2 separate regions of the Homo sapiens genome follow, and region 2 is linked to region 1. A link means that fine-mapping ties the variant in region 1 to the expression of a gene that starts in the linked region. Tissue or cell type: skeletal muscle. Region 1 holds a variant in brackets; the other region holds the start of a gene. All regions are shown on one strand. Distances are from middle to middle.

Region 1 (8,320 bases):
CTGAGTCAGGCGATTGCAGCTCTGGGAAGGATGTCTAGAACAGCTGAAGCAGAGAAAACCAGAGAGACCAAGCTAGAGGATGAGGCCTCAGAGACCAGAGGGGCCGGTTCACATGGGCCCTTGCAAGTCACTGGCAGGATTCTGCACTTTTCTCAAGGGCACTGGGAAGCCATGGATGGCTCAACCTAGAAGGAGCCTGATAAGCTCATAGAAGACCAGAGTCCTCTGCCCCGAGCAGCAATTCCTGTGGGGCCTTTTGTGGCCACACTTGACTAGGTACTGGGGATGGGTTCATTCATAAATTAGGTTTAGCCTGAGTGCCAGGAGGAGGGGCCTCACAGGCAAGACGTTTGTTCAGGGTCAGGTACCTAGAACATTCCCTGGCTGCCACCAGAAGGCTCTGTCTTTACCAAAAAGTCATCCCAGGAGAGCTCACAGCCAGGTTTTATCACTGCTCTCAACCCCAAGGCCACATTTTTTCATCTCAGAGCCTCACACCTTGAAGGCCGGCAGGCTCAGTATAAAACATCCCAGCACGGAGCCAGTGCACAGTAGGTGTTTCATGACAAAAGCCACCATTCTTTGAGTAGTTACCATGTTCTCATGGTTCTGAGAATTTCTATTCATAAACATAGTTAACCATCATATTACTCCATGAGGTAGGAACCAGTATCCTCTTTGTTCTGGAGATGTCTGTCAGACTGATGCTTGGAGACGTTTCTTTTCAGGGCCAAGGCCTCAAAGAGGTCTCACAGCAGGTCTCCATCACAACCACCTGTCTTCTTAACTCCTTCTCTGCCCCACTTCCTCTTTACACATAGTAGGGCATCCTCCGACTCCTTCCAGAGGCCATTTGCACGTATTTTCTTGTGGGTAGCAGAATGAGGGTCACAGCCAACAGCAGGGTTAAAGTCCCTGCACATGGGCTGTGGTAAGGGTTGAGACAGCACTGGTAAAGCACTGGCTTAGTAGTTGGTATTCCATACCCACTTGATAAATGATGGAGGGTCCATGATGACTGGACCCTCACATCACCATTGAGCCAGGGATAGCTCTGTGGTATTCATTCCACTGGTCAAATAGGTCAAGGGAGGCCCAGAGAGCTAATGTCAAGCCAAAAGTCTCACAGCAAGATCAGAGTTGGGACTGTCCCAACCCCACACACAGGATCCACGCATTGCTCCATAGAAGTTTCCTGAGGGCAGGACCACATCTATCTTGCTTACTATCAATAGTACTAGTTGAGATGGGGGCAGTGGTTCATACCTGTAATCTCAGCTACTCCAGAGGCTGAAGCAGGAGGATCACTTGAGCCCAGGAGGTCAAGGCTCTAGCAAGCTGTGATTGCACCACTGGACTCCAGCCTGGGCCACAGAGCAAGACCCTATCTCTACAAAAAATGAAAGAAAAATAAAAAATAATACTAGCTGAATGAATAAGTGAGCCATTGCAGCAGACAGACTCTTCTCCTAATGTTTATGCCCTTATGTAGCCAGTCCCTTTTCCTGGCATGTGGGAAGAGCCTGTGACCTGCTTCTAATCCACAAAATAGAGCAAATTGACAAGATGTGTGTGATTACATACTTAAGATTATAGCACCCATCTTCCTGGAATCTCTTGCTTCCTGACAGCTTTGAAAGCAGCAAGCTGCCAAGGTGTAGGCTGCCTATGTTGGGAGGCCCATGTGGCAAGGAAATGTGGGGGTTTCTAGGAGCTGAAGGTGGCCTCTGACCAACAGGCAGGAAAAAGCTGAAGTCTTCAGTCCTACACCCACAAGGACCTAACTCCTGTCAATCATCTGCATGATCATGGAAGCAGATCTCTCTCCAGTTGAGCCTCAGATGAGAACACAGCCACAGCTGACACCTTGGCTGCAGTCTTGTGAGACCCTAAGCAGAAGACCCACCCACACCATGCTCAGACTCCTGATCCACAGAAACTACGAGATCATAAATGTAAATTGTTTTAAGCCACAAAATTAGTAGATGTTACACAGCAGTAGATAACTAACACAGCCAGAGACAGCCATAGCCATAGTTCCCAATTTGACTCATTCACAAACCAGTTCCTCTTCCATAGTTTCAGTCAAGGGAGATTTTACCAAGACAAAATGGCCGAGCATGGTGGCTTACACCTATAATCCCAACACTTTGGGAGGCCAGACAAGAAGGATCATTTGAGGCCAGGAGTTCAAGACCAGCCTGAGCAACATAGCAGGACCCCATTTCTATTTAAAAAAAAAAATTAAAAATTAGCCAGGCATGGTGGCGGCACCTGTAGTCCCAGCTACTTAGGAGGCTGGGGCAGGAAGATCACTTGAGCTCAGGAGTTCAAGATTGCAGTGAGTTACGATGGCACCACTACACTCCAGCCTAGGTGACAGAACAAGACCCTGTCTCAAAAAAAAAAAAAAAAAAAAAAAAAAAAAAAAAGAGAGAGAGAGAGAGAAGAAAGAAAACCATTTGGAGCCATTTGGAGCTGGGAGTGGAGGGAAAAGGGGAATTCTTAAAACCGTCCCTGGGAGCTCAGACGTGGTTGAACATGAAAATACACTCTTCTTACAAGTGGCTTGGAAATGGGACCTAATGTAATTATCTTAAACAAATTCACAAGAGGAGAACATTCCTGCTTGAGGTCATCTCAACTAACCAAGGCAGCCTTGCTCTGCTCAGCCTGACACAGTGCTTAGCCTGGGAACCTGATTTGGACTGAGAAAAAGACCTCTCTGGCTGTCACTGTTCCATGTGGATTCTCTGAATGTCAGAATGTTCCAGGCATCAACTCCTTAAGTCTATGAGTCATGAAATTCCAGACCTCTGCAGGCACTGGAACGTAGACTGTGATAACCACCACATTTGTCCTAATCACCAATTTGTTTCTAGATAATCTAGTTTGGGTGGTAGAGACATGGATGAACACAGCTGGGAGTGTGTTGATGAATGTTGAGGCAGTTGATAGGTACCTGGGGGTTCTTTATACTACTGTTCTTTTTGCTTTCACACGTTTGAGGTTTTCCATAGTGAAAAATTAAATCAGTGGAAAGGCAGTGCAGTCCAGTGGTTATGTGCATGGACTCTGGGTCCCGCAGATCTGGGGGTGTGTCCTGGCTCATCCAAACTACATCATCCCAGGCTGAGTCTCCACAGTAGTAACCTCAGTGAGATTTTTTGTTTTGTTTTGTTTTGGTTTTGAGATGGAGTCTCGCTTTGTCACCCAGGCTGGAGTGCACTGGCGCGATCTCAGCTCACTGAAAGCTCCGCCTCCCAGGTTCACACCATTCTCCTGCCCCAGCCTCTCGAGTAGCTGGGACTACAGGCACCCGCCACCATGCCCAGCTAATTTTTTTGTATTTTTAGTAGAGATGGGGTTTCACTGTGTTAGCCTAGCCAGGATGGTCTCGATCTCCTGACCTCGTGATCCGCCCACCTCAGCCTCCCAAAATGCTGGGATTACAGGTGTGAGCCACTGCGCCCAGCCAAGATCTTAGCTCCATTTTACAGATGAGGCCACTGAGGCTCAGGGAGTGGCTGTGACTTGCCCGGAGTCTCACAGCTGGAAAGGCTCGAGCCAGGATTTGAACCAAGTCCTTTTGCCTCCAAAATCTTCTAACTGGTACACTCAGGACTGGCTGTATAATTTGTGGGACCCACAAAAAAAAATGAAATGCGGGGCCCCTTGTTAAAAAACAATGATGATTGCTTCTCGGAATAGGGGATTTGAAAAAATAATAATAATGATGAATTTCAAGTTGATGGCAGCAGAGCATTAAACCAAGCACAGGGCCCCCCGTGAAGCTGGCCCTGGCTACATTGTAGTGATGTTAGCTGCCATTATTCTTATTACAATTGCATATTCATAGTCCCCTGGAGTCTTCAAATCAAAGAACAATAGAACAGAATTCTGGTGTCTCAAGGATCTTGACGATCCCAGAATTACAGAACAGTGTCCACTCCCACAAATTCTTGCTAAGTCAGAACCCAGAACATGAGAAAGAATAAAAAATACTTTGGCAAATACAGAGTGCTGGAACCGGAAGAGGTCATCAAATCAGCCCATTTCACAGATGTGGAAATCAAGTCCCAGAAAGCAGTAGCGGCTTTCCTAGTATTCAGGACCCCAAGACCCCAGGGTTCCTCATCACCCCTGAGAGCAACTCTCTGGATCTTCCCATTCAGCTGACGGGCCTCCCCCATTCCTTCAGTTTCCAGTCCCTGGAGTGGGATTCTCCCTCCATTGTCCTCCTTTTGGGCCAACCTTCTCCCACACCATCGCCTCTCTTAGCTCAATGTCCCAGAAGAGTATTACCAGCAGCTGCTTAGCTCAAATTATAGCTTCTTTAGACAGAAAGAAAACATGGGATAAGAGATCCAGGCAAACATCGCCACTCTAAAGAGGCTCTCCTCAGCCTGTTATGAGTGAGGAGTTTGTTTTTTGTTAATATTTTTTCTGCATGGCGTGCTGCAAATAAGAACATTCAGAGAGCAAATTGGTGGCGTATTTATTGCTGTTGGTTCTTCAGCAGCACTAAGCCAGTAATAACGGAGAAGCTGCTTGAAGTGTGAGCTCAATTCCACCTGGTTAAAGCGATCAGGGCTCCGCTCCGGGGCTGTGTTTTGTCAAGTAGACACAGAGCACAACCCCAGAATGCCCAAACTAATAGCATAATCGGATTGAGACTTCCGCATGCTCCCCACATCCCTGCGGGTTCCCTGGGGCAGCAGGCTGGGCTCCGAGCTCCAGGTGCCCACCCGGTGCCCAGCCCAGACCTAGAGAAGACTGGTGCCTCTCCCTACCCAGCCAAGCCATGCTCTTAGCATTGTAACTTGCCCCTGGGTGCCTGAGAGGGATGGCAGTGTGAGACCTAAGTCATGCACCCAGGAGGTTGGGGGTGTCCCCTCAAGTAGAGGGTTTCACAGAGAAGATACCAAGAGGGTTGTCTTAAAGTCCAGCACTGGCAGTTCCTGGTTGAATGACCTTGAGCAAGTTACTTAACCTCTCCATCCGTACCTCTACTTCTCTGTAAGTAAAATGGGTATAATAATAAATACCTACATCGTAGAGTCACTATGAGGATTAAACTGAGTTAATACATGAGAAGGGAATCCTTTAGAACAGTGCCTGGCCCTTGGTAAAAATTACACAAGCACTGGGTTTTATTTATTTAAAATCTGTCGCCTAGGCTGGAGCAGAGCAGCTCAAACATAGTTCACTGCAGCCTCAAACTCCTGC[G/A]CTCAAGTGATCCTCCCTCCCCAGCTTCCATAGTAGCTGGGACTATAGGCATGCACCACCATACCCAGCTAATTTTTTTAAACTTTGTGTAGAGATAAAATTTTAATTTTGTGTAGAGGGGCATCTCACCATGTTGTCCAGGCTGGTCTCAAGGCAGAATCCTGGTGGCTCAAAAATCTTGATGATCCCAGAATTACAGAACTCTTGGGCTCAAGGGATAGCCCCACCTCTGTCCCCAAAAGCTCTGGGATTACAGGTATGAGCCACCATGCCTAGCCTTGGGTTTTTACGGGAAAGATAACAAGGTCTGGAGTCTGCAACCTGGACTTTGCACACTGTGTGAACCTGAGTGGGTCACTTCAGCTCTGGCTTCTTTTTCTGAACAGACACGAGGTGATAACTCATGCCTATGTCACCAGGGCCTGTGAGGGTTAACCAGCGTAAGGAGTGTTGATGGGTTTTGTAAACAGTGCTGTACGGATACTGGTTTTGTGGCCCGGTCGGGGCCTCTTGGGAAACAGTGTAGTATGCTGCTGGTGAGAGTGTGAATTATGACAACCACTTGGAAAAGAATTTGGCAATGTAGCCTCATGTGGAAGATGCACATACCCTCTGACTCAGCAATTTCACCCCTAAGAAGACGCCCAAAAAGAATTCTGGCTGATGTGCTCAAGATATACACATGGATGCTCATAGCAGTGTGTTCAAGGGAGTTTTGGGCGAGAAAACACCTTAGTGCCATGGCCAGGAGATCGCATGAATCAACTGTGGCACAGCTAAGCGAAGGACTCCCACACAGCCCTAAAAATGAATTAACCACATCACTATGGAACGATACCAGGGAATCTTTTCCTGGTGGAATAGCTCTGTATCTTGACTGTTGGGATGGTTATTCAAACCTACACACATTTTCAAGAACTGTACACCTGGGGTCGGGGGAAGAAATAAAAGATGCATGTAAAAAAAAAAAAAAAAAAAAAAAAACAAAAAACTGATGACATCTGAATATGGTCCACCCCTGAGTTAATAGTATTGTCCAGTGGTTAGGTGCATGGGCTCTGGGTCCCACAGATCCAGGGGTGTGTTTTGTCTCATCCAAGCTAAATCATCCCAAGCTGAGTCTCCACAGTAGTAACCTCAATGAGATTGTACTATTGTGTCAATTTCCTGTTTTGATCATTTTTACTATGGCCTTGAAAGGTATTATCATTGGGGGAAGCTGGGTGAAGGGTTCACAGGTTCTCTCTGTATTATTTTTTCAACTTTGTGTGAGTCTTTAATGATTTCAAAAAAAAGAATTAAAACTGATTAATTAATTAATTAATTACGGTGCATGCGACAACATAAAGGAATCTCAAAACAGAATGAGGAAAGATAAAGAAGAAAATACACAGTGGGATTCCATTTATACTGAGTTCAAAAACAGGCAAACCCTACACTATAGTATCTAGGAATCTTATACACGTAATAAGTCACTAACAAAGAGCCAACCCTGAACCCGGAAGAGGGGTTAGCCTTGGCAATAGAGACAGGTAGGTAGCAAGTGTGGTGGAGTCCACAGGGCTTAGCCGCATGGGTAGCATTGCATTTCTCAAGCTCGGTGGTGGAGAGGCTATTGTTTGTTTGGTTTTGCTTTGTCCCTTATGCCTACCTTATGTATTTCATTTTATTTGTATAAAATATCTCCATAAAAATAAGTTTTAAAAAGGGTTTGGTCTTTGGAGTCAGAAAGTCCTGGGTCAAGTGCTGGCTTTGCTGCCTAGCAGCCAAGTGACCTTGGCCAAGTCACTTCTAGGCCTCAGGGTCCTCTGTGTGGAGCCTACTGGGAAGGAAGACGGCTGTCTTATTATAGGGCCTTCCTAGAAAAATGACCTCCCAGCACCTTCAGGTATCTGGGCCTCCCTTTTTCTACAGGGACTTGGGGTAAGGCCTGAATGGACAGCTTTGCCCAACTGTGCGGCCCTGTAGGGGCACTACCCACCCATGTCCCTGATGTTTTCTGCTGGGAAAGGGAATGTGAACTCTATTATTATTATTTTTTGACAGGGTCTTACTCTGTTGCCCAGGCTGCAGTGCAGTGGCACAATCATGGCTCACTGCAACCTTAAATTCCCAGCCGTCGTCCTCCCTCAGCCTCCCGAGTAGCTGGGACTACAGGCACACATCACCATGCCCAGCTAATTTTTTTGTTTTGTTTTGGGTTTTTTTTGTAGAGACAGGGTTTTGCCATGTGGCCCAAGCTGGTCTCGAAGTCCTGAGCTCAAGTGATCCTCCCACCTCAGCCTCCCAAAGTGCTGGGATTACAGGTGCATGTTTAACATTGCTCCAGGTGTGTGCTTGCCCTGTCTCAACAACCCCTTCCCCAGCTTATCTCTCCCACTGAGAAGGAGTCACCCCAAGTTGCTTAGATTTGGGGCAGTGACTGGGCCAGGTTTGCCAGTGGCAGGGCCTTCTCCTGCATGGAATGGCCAAGCTTCCCTGCTTCCTATCTTTCTCTGATTTACCCACATGGGTACAGATCTTGTTGCTTTTCTCTTCTGCAACACGCTAGAGCAAGGCAAGCTTCCTCATTTGACTTAGATGGATAGTCAGCCCCTTAGACCTCATGCCTAGACCCAGCTGGGCCAACCCTCATGAACAACCATGCAAAGTTCACCTTCCTATCCCACTCTTCCCATCCATATTACACTTGCAGACCTTTTCCCATTTATTGCTTTGAACAATTTAATTCTACTCCTCAGAGGGACAGACCTGGTTCTGTGTTTAAAGCTCAAACACCAAGGCAAGCTCGACCACTATTCACCTCTCTTCATTTGCTCTTATGAAACATCACTGCTGTCCAGAATAAACCTTAGTCTTTTTTTTCCCTTGCTCCCAGCTCCCTAGATATGTGTGAATATAAAATATAAATATATGTAAATATAATTCTTTGGCCGTTTGTGTTCAAGATTTAGAATTTCCTCCTAGAGGGAAAAGGCAGGAAGGGAATGGCTTGTAAGCACAGGCTGTGCTTCATTAAGAAGCGTGTTTGGGGTGGCGATCACTTTTCTCTAAGCTAGACAAGCCGGCTGGAAGCTGACCTCTGTACATC
Region 2 (8,000 bases), 180 kb after region 1:
GCAGGAAACAAGCCCCTACTGCTGTGTGGTGCTAAGGTTTGGGGCTGCTTGTTACTACAGCCAAATCCAGCCCAGGCTGACTGATACAGGGACTGGGTGTGAATGACGGGAAGTGGGAGTGGGTAGAGCAGGGGGAGTAAGATAGCATAGGTGTGAGTGAAACCTCTACTGCTGAACAGTGCTGTGTTGGGGGATGTTTGCTACTATGGCATAACCCATCCTGCACTGACTGATAGAGGGACTATGTGGACTGGTGAGTAAGGGAATGTAAGAAGATGAATTTGTGAGTGAGACTGTGCATGTGACTATGTTGAGTTGTCTGTGAGGTTGTGAGTGGGGGTGTGAGGGAGGTCTGAAGGAGGTATTAAGAGTGTAAGGGGCACCTTCCCCCGCCTTGCACCTTCTCCGTATCTGGGGCCCCAGGCAGGGGTTGTACAGAGTATCATCCCACTGCCCACACCGGATACCAGTGGCATCTGCACTCCTTCCTCTTTACCATCGAAATTTCTCTCAAATCTCTCAGCTTCTCCTCCCCATCATGCCACCTGCTAACCTGACCTAGTCTCCCTACTGCTGGCCCCTGTCATGTCCATCTGGAGGGCACAGCTGCCCCCTCTAACTGCACCCACACTCCCAGGCCTTTCTCTGCACAGCAACCAGAAGTCTCTTTCTAAACCCAAGTCTGCGTCTGCCTTTCCCTTCTTTAAAACCCTCCATGGCTCCCATGGCCCCATCGCCCTCCTCCCCACAGCTGAGTCCTGACTCACCCTGTCTCTCTCAGGCTGCTGCCACACTGACCTCCATTCAACCTGTCAGAGCCCATGCTTCCTCTCCCCGAAGACCCTTCACACATGCTGTTCCCTCCCAGCCTAGAATGCTTGTCCCTTCTGCTCTTTACCTAGTTCATATCTCAGCTGCCACTTCCTCCAGGAAGCCCTTCCTGGTATACACTCTCATCACTCTATATGTCTCCCTCTTGAAGCACTGTGTGCTTACTCTGTGAGCTCCCTGTTGGGGAATGGGGAGTGGGGACTGGGTAGGGCCAGGACCTGCTCTTGTTCACCACTGTGTCCCTAATACTGGCATTGTAACCGGCACACAGTAGGCACACAATAAATGCTTGCGAATGAGCAAATGAGTGAGTATGCATGTGTGCATGTGTGTTTGTGGGTGTGATGTGTATGTGGGTGTGCCCCTGCGGTGACAGCTGCTAGAACCCAGTCTGGCCCATCCTCTTTCTTCCCTGCCTCTCCCTCCCCCAACAAGAACCTCAGAGGATGGGGCAGCCTCCCCATCTTTTCTGCACATCTCAGGGGCAAGCAGGGGCAACCTAATGGGAGAGAGGGGCTGCAGGACTCAGGCAAGGAAGGGAAGGTCTGGCTGCAACCAGCAAGGCAGGCTTGGAGGGGATGGCACGACCCTAACTAGACCTAGAGAGACAGGGAAGATTGGAACACAGGTCACTGGGGACTGAGACTGGTGGGGGTGGAAAGGGCTGTCCAGGTGGAGGGTAGAGCAATGAGCAAGGGAGGCCAGAAACTGACTTCTTTAAGTTTAAGCTCCATCAATGCAGGGATCACATCTGTCGTATTCACCACTGTAATCTCCAAAGTATAGTACCTGGCACATAATTAGTGCTCAATAAATATGGGGGAGAGAAAAGAAGGACAGTTTATTGCTCCCTAGGGCTTTTGGGGTGTTTTTTAGAGATGGGGTCTCACTATGTTGCCCAGGCTGGTCTCAAACTCTTAGCTTCAAGCAACCCTCCCACTTCAGCCCTCCAAAGTGCTGGGATTACAGGCAGGAGCCACCGTGCCTGGCCTCCCCAGGGCTTTTATAAGTCAGTCCTGGAGTCCTGAGCTCCAATCAAGGTTCTGCCACATATCAGCCTTGTGAGTCTGGGCAGCCCATTTGCCTTTTTGTAACTCTGTGTCCTCATTAGTAACATAAAAGTGAGATTTGCAGGCCCCTGTGAAAGACAATTGTTTCTGCCTGTCCAGCACCCTGATTCTCCCTCAGGGATCATCCGTCATTCTCCCACCTCCCTTGGACTGTGATGTTAGTTGTTTTTCGATTTTTTTTGTTTGTTTGTGTTTGTTTGTTTGTTTGTTTGTTGAGATGGAGTTTTGTTCTGTTGCCAAGGCTGGAGTGCAGTGGCGCAATCTCAGCTCACTGCAACCTCTGCCTAGAGAGTTCAAGTAATTCTCCTGCCTCAGCCTCCCAAATACCTGGGATTACAAGCATGTGCCACCATGCCTGGCTTATTTTTGTATTTTTTAGTAGAGACGAGGTTTCACCATGTTGGCCAGGCTGGTCTGGAACTCGTGACCTCAAGTGATCCTCCTGCCTTGGCCTCTCTCTGTGATGTTTAAGAGAGCCTTATCCCAGTCCCCAGCTCTTGGAAGGGCACATGACCTGGGCTTGGCCAATCAAAATGCTCCATTCCTGATCCTGTGATTGGCTCAGGAACATGCACATGACCCAAGTACAATCAGTGAGAATGAGTCCTGGAACTTGTGCTGAAACTATTAATAAAAAGCTTTTTTAGGTTTTTCTTGTCTTAGTTCTGACAAGAGAATATAGTTCTGGAATTACTCAGGATTCTGTAAAAAGAGCTTGCCTGTGAGAGGAAAATGGGACCAGGTCCTGCCCTGCAGACATTGTTGGAGCACCTAGATCCAGCCATGCCTGAAGCCAGTCCTGAGCTTTGTGTGTGTGTGTGTGTGTGTGTGTGTGTGTGTGTGTGTGTGTGTGTGTGTGTGGCTGGCACGTAAGTAAAGGCTATACAAATGGTAGCTATAATTAGCAGAATAGGATATGGCACACAATAGGTACTTGGTGGTGTTAGTGCCTGCCTTCTTTCATTCCCCTGCCCCTGGAAACATTGTAGCCTTACTGCCATCCCTTTTTCTGTCCATTATAGATGCTTCCTGAAGGATTGTGGGGCACGTTCAGGGCATGGGAAAAATGTGTTAATGGTAGAATGTCTGTCAGAGCATTTTCCTATCAAGCTGTTCTTCTTCCCCACAGAAGATGCTTAAGGAATAAGACAGATGCCAAAAATAATGAGGCCAAGAGCTGTCGTGGTCCTTGCCTAGCAAATTCACAGCTTCAAGCCATTCAGGCCCTGGGGCAGCCATAGAGAGGGAAGGAGTAGAGAGCCCTCGGGGGTCTTCGGGGGCTGGGCACCTCTCTGCATTAGGCTAACAGTGGGGCCTGGGGTTTCAGAGCTGAGGGCAAGTTCCCATCAGCAAGGCTGTGAGAGCATTTAGTGAATGCCTACTGGATGCTAGGCCTGTGCACTAGTGAATAATAATAAATGAGGAAGCTAGATCAGAGGGAGAAGACCTACACTTAGTAGGTGGTTTTTAACTGCTTATTGGTTGAATGAGTGGACCTTCAGAGATCCGATCCATGGATAGCCTTCACGCCCCAAATGGCCAGGTCAGTATGGGCAGGGGAGGCACTAACCTGGCTGAACATGGGGAGGGAGCAGAGAAGGCTCATGAACTGAGTTGAGCCTTAAAGAATGAGGTCTTAGCAACGAGAAATCCTGTGTGAAGGGGTGGAGAGAAATTCCTGGGAGGAGCAAAGGAGCAACATGCCTCCAGAATACACAGGGAAGAGGGGAGGCTCCAAGCGCAGCAGGGACCTTACAGATCATGCTAAAGAGCTCAGGCTTTGGAGTGGAGCATGGGGGAGCTATGGGAGGGCTTTGAGCAAGGGAGTGGCCTGATTTAGATTTGGGCTTAAGAAAAACCTCTCTAGCCACTATCAGATAGCTTAGAAGGAGAAATCCCGGAGGATGTTAGCATCAATCAGGTGAGTGATACTGGGGGCTGAGACTGATGCCAGAGATTTCAGAAGCAAAATCAAAAAGCTTGGCAGCTTTTGGAGTCAGATGGAAGGCAGCGTGGAGAAGGGGGCCCAGGGAAAGAAATAGGAAGCTCAAGTTCAAGGCCTGGCCTTCTGGGGCTGGGGTGCAGTTTCCTCTTCGGAAAATGGGACTTCATAATGTCTGCCCTGCTAAACTCAGAGAGTTGGCATGAAAAGCAAGTGATAGGATGACTGGGAAAATGCCTTGAATTGTATACAGCAGGGTCGGCAAAGGTTCCCTGTAAAGAGCCAGACAGTAACTACTTTAGGCTTTGTGAGCCATAAGTTCTCTGTCCCTCCTACCACTCAACTCTGCACCACAGACCATACATAAACACGTGGGTGTGGCCGTATTCCAATCAAACTTTATTAGCCCGGGGGTTGTGGTTTGCCAACCCGATTTAAGGCGATATGCAAATACCACCACTTTCTTCTGAGCACTCCTGATATCTCTTCTCTCTTGGCCCTGATTTCTTCCTATTTGTTCTGTCTCCAAAGATCACAGCCCAGAGAAAAAGAAAGTACACTTGGCCCTCCATATATGTGGGTTCCACATCCATGGACTCAACAAACCAGAGTGAAAATATTTGGAAAAAATAAAATGGATGGTTGTGCCTGTACTGAACATGACTTTTTTCCTTGTCATTATTCCCTAAACAATACAGTATAACAACTCTTCACATAGCATTTACATTGTATTGGTATTATAACTAGTTTAGAAATGATTTAAAGTATGTGGGAGGATATGCGTAGGTTATATGCAGATAATACTCCCTTTGTATATAAAGGACTTGAGCATCTGTGGATTTTCATACCCATGTGGTATCCTGGCACAAATTCCCCCTGGATGCTGAGGGATGACTCTACTTCTCCCTAGGTACTCATTGTATAAATGAGGAAACTAGATGAGAGTGAGAAGACCTACACTTAGTAGGTGGTTTTTAACTACTTATTGGTTGAATGAATGTACCTTAGGAGATCCAATCCATGAATAGCATTCATGCCCCAAATGGCCAATCTTATATTCGTGGCAGACATCACAAATCAATCCCAGCATGCTTCTCCGTGGAGCATTGATTCGGCTTCTAAATTCTCAAGTCAACGTTCCAAGTAGTCACCTTCTATTGAGATCAGCACATAAGAAGAAATGCAAACTAGTTCAACCCTTCTATTTTGTAGATGAGGAAATGGAGGCAAAATAAGGTGTCATGGGGGGTCTGGGTGGACCAGCTGGTGCCCTCTGGCTGCCTGTTTCATCCAGCCTGTCCAGAAGCTCCAGAGAAGCCCTCGTCCAGCTGGGAAGGCAGGGGGTGCCAGAGAGAAGCACAGCTGGACAGCTGGCATGGGCTCATCCCAGCGCCTCCCTGCCCAGCCACACTGCGATCGGCTCTGGCGGTGTCCCTTCTGTCCCCCACCCGCCTGCTCCCCACAGCTGCTCTTTTGAAAGCCCTGCATGGGAAGCTGTTGATGCGTCTCTCTGTTCCCTTTTCAGACCATTGTCCCCTCGCTGGCGCCAGCCGTGTTCTTCTCTTGGCTGCTTAATTAACAGTATTATTAAAGCCTAGAGGAAAGAGTCACCCAGATCCTCCCTCAAAGCCACTCATGCTTGGGAAGAGGAGCTGCAGGCAGACAGGAAGCAGGGGCTGGTGCCAGGAGATGCCCCCTCCCCGCCTCCAGGGCCCTTCACTTGCCAATGCCCAGTCGAACCACTTTTCCCCACCTTCCTGGGGCAGCCATTGAGGGCCTGGGAGGGAAGAGGCAGGGAGGAGGTGACTTGCAGCAAGCTTGTCTGGAAATACCCAGATCTGGTTGATAAACCCTGCTCTCAGCAATGGGTGCCAGTCTTCGGGGAGAGGAGCTAGTCCCCCAGCCCTGGGATCAGCTCAGAACTCAACAGTCACATCCTCACTACCTCCATGCAGAGAAGAAGCAGAAGCAGTAGCGGGAAAACATGTCCAGTAGCTGTGTGACCTTGGGCCAAACCATCGCTGTCTCTGTGCTCAATTTCTCCTGTGTAAAAAGTGCTTCTAATGCACCTAGTCCGGTGCTAAGCACTTCATGTGCATTATCTTACCTATTCCTTGTTCCAGTAATCTACTGCTGTATTACAGATTACCCCAAAACATGGTGCCTTAAAGCAACAACAATCATAATCTGTAATTTATGCAGGGTGCAGCGGGATAGCTCATCTCAGCTCCACATGGCATCAGCTGAGACAACTTAACTGTGGGGCAGAGAACCCACCTCCAAAATAGCTCACTCACATGATTGGCAAATTGGTTTTAGCTGTTAGCTGGGAGCTCAGCAGGAGCTATCCACTGGGGGCATGGGGGTGGGTCTCCATTCCTCTCCATGGGCTTCTTGGGCTTCCTCACAACATGGCAGCCAGGTTCTGGGAAGGAGTAACTTAGGAGAACCAGGCACAAGTGCATGGCATTGTCATGACCTAACCTCAGAAGTCATAGCATCACCTCCATGCTACTCTGCTGATTGAGGCAATTCAAATGCCCACCCAAGTTCAAGGAGAGGGAACTTCCACTCAACTTCTTGATGAGAAAATGGTGAGATTCTACAAGGGCATAAGGAATGAGAGATGTGGTTATGACCATCTTTGAAAAACACAATCTGCCACATTCTTCAAAACAACTGGAAGGTCAGTGCAATTATTATTTCCATTTTACAGATTAGGAAACTAAGAATTTAAGTCATTCAGAGAAGTTAAGTAATTTACCCAAAGCCACACAGCTTTGTGGCTGAGCAGGGTTGTGAACATATGCAGCCTGACTTCAAAACATAGGGTTTTTCAAACTTTTTTTTTTTAGCTGCAAAACATATCCTCCTAATAAAATCTTCTGGGAGAGATTTGTGAAAGGAGGTCAAAACAGAGTCAGTGGGGACTTGAACCCTGCCATTGCCTCCAGGATCCTCTCAGGAACTCAAGTTTCCAAAAAAGTTTGAAAATCCCAAGGTACGCTGTTCTCCAAGTCAACAGGCAACAAGGAAAAATCCCCTCCATTGTCTGGCTGGTCTACCTGGTCTAGACTCTGCTCCTGTCATCTTATTTTATGGGCTTCCTGGATTGCTGTCTATGTTAGCCCATTCTCACACTGCTATAAAGAACTATCGGAGACTGCATAATCTATGAAGAAAATAGGTTTAATTGACTCACAGTTCCACAGGCTGTACAGGAAGCATGGCTGGAAAGCCTCAGGAAACTTACGCTCATGGCAGAAGATGAAGGGGAAGCAAGCACATCTTTACCATGGGGAGAAGGAGAGCAAGGGAGCAAAGAGGAAAGTGCTACACACTTTTTAACACCAGATCTCACGAGAACTCCCTCACTATCACGAGAACTCCCTCACTATCACGAGAACTCCCTCACTATCACGAGAACAGCAAGGGGAAAATCCGCCCCCACGTTGCAATCACCGCCCACCAGGTCCCTCCCCTAACACTGGGGATTACAAATCAACATGAGATTTGGGTGAGGACACAGAGCCAAACGGTATCACTGTCCCTCCTCTGAGTTAATCCCAGCAACCCAGGTGGCTTCTCCATACCTGCCACCCTCATCCCAACTCCCAGTTCTTGTTGGAAGTGATGTTTAAAACAAACAGCACTGGCCGGGCACGGTGGCTCACGCCTGTAATCCCAGCACTTTGGGAGGCCAAGGCAGGGAGATCACAAGGTGAGGAGATCAAGACCATCCCGGCCAACGTGGTGAAACCGCATCTCTACTAAAATACAAAAAATTAACAAGCATGGTGGCGTGCGCCTGTAGTCCCAGCTACTTGGAAAGCTGAGGCAGGGGAATCACTTGAACCCGGGAGGCAGATGTTGCAGTGAGCCGAGATCGCGCCACTGCACTCCAGCCTGGCGACAGAGCAAGACTCCATCTCAAAAAAGCAAACAAACAAACAACAACAACAACAGCACTCTGCCAGGTAAAGGAAGTTGGAGGAAGGGTGGTCTAAACAGAGGGACTACCACATGCCAAACCCTGGAGTACAGGGCAGCCAGGGCAGAGAGTGGGCAGGGAGTCCCATGAGCAGGGAGCGGCATGAGATGAGGCTGGCAGGAAGGCAGGATTAGAGAACGCAGGGTGGAGAACTTTGTTTTGAAGG

Evidence for each region. PIP is the estimated chance that this variant, and not a neighbour inherited with it, causes the effect.
Region 2: it holds the start of CPMER, and the variant in region 1 is fine-mapped to the expression of CPMER in skeletal muscle (GTEx, PIP 0.99).

What each region holds. Positions count from the first base shown.
Region 1 is chr22:27,529,222-27,537,541 of GRCh38, forward strand. All of the region lies in intron 1 of LOC105372981 (a long non-coding RNA gene), which reads right to left. Among named protein-coding and RNA genes, the nearest start is that of CPMER, 180 kb to the right of the region's middle. The variant G/A (reference allele first, on the strand shown) is at 5,230.
Region 2 is chr22:27,710,035-27,718,034 of GRCh38, forward strand. CPMER (cytoplasmic mesoderm regulator) reads right to left here and starts at 4,936. Exons shown (of 5, transcript NR_186699.1): 1 at 4,847-4,936. RefSeq lists an enhancer at 7,714-8,000.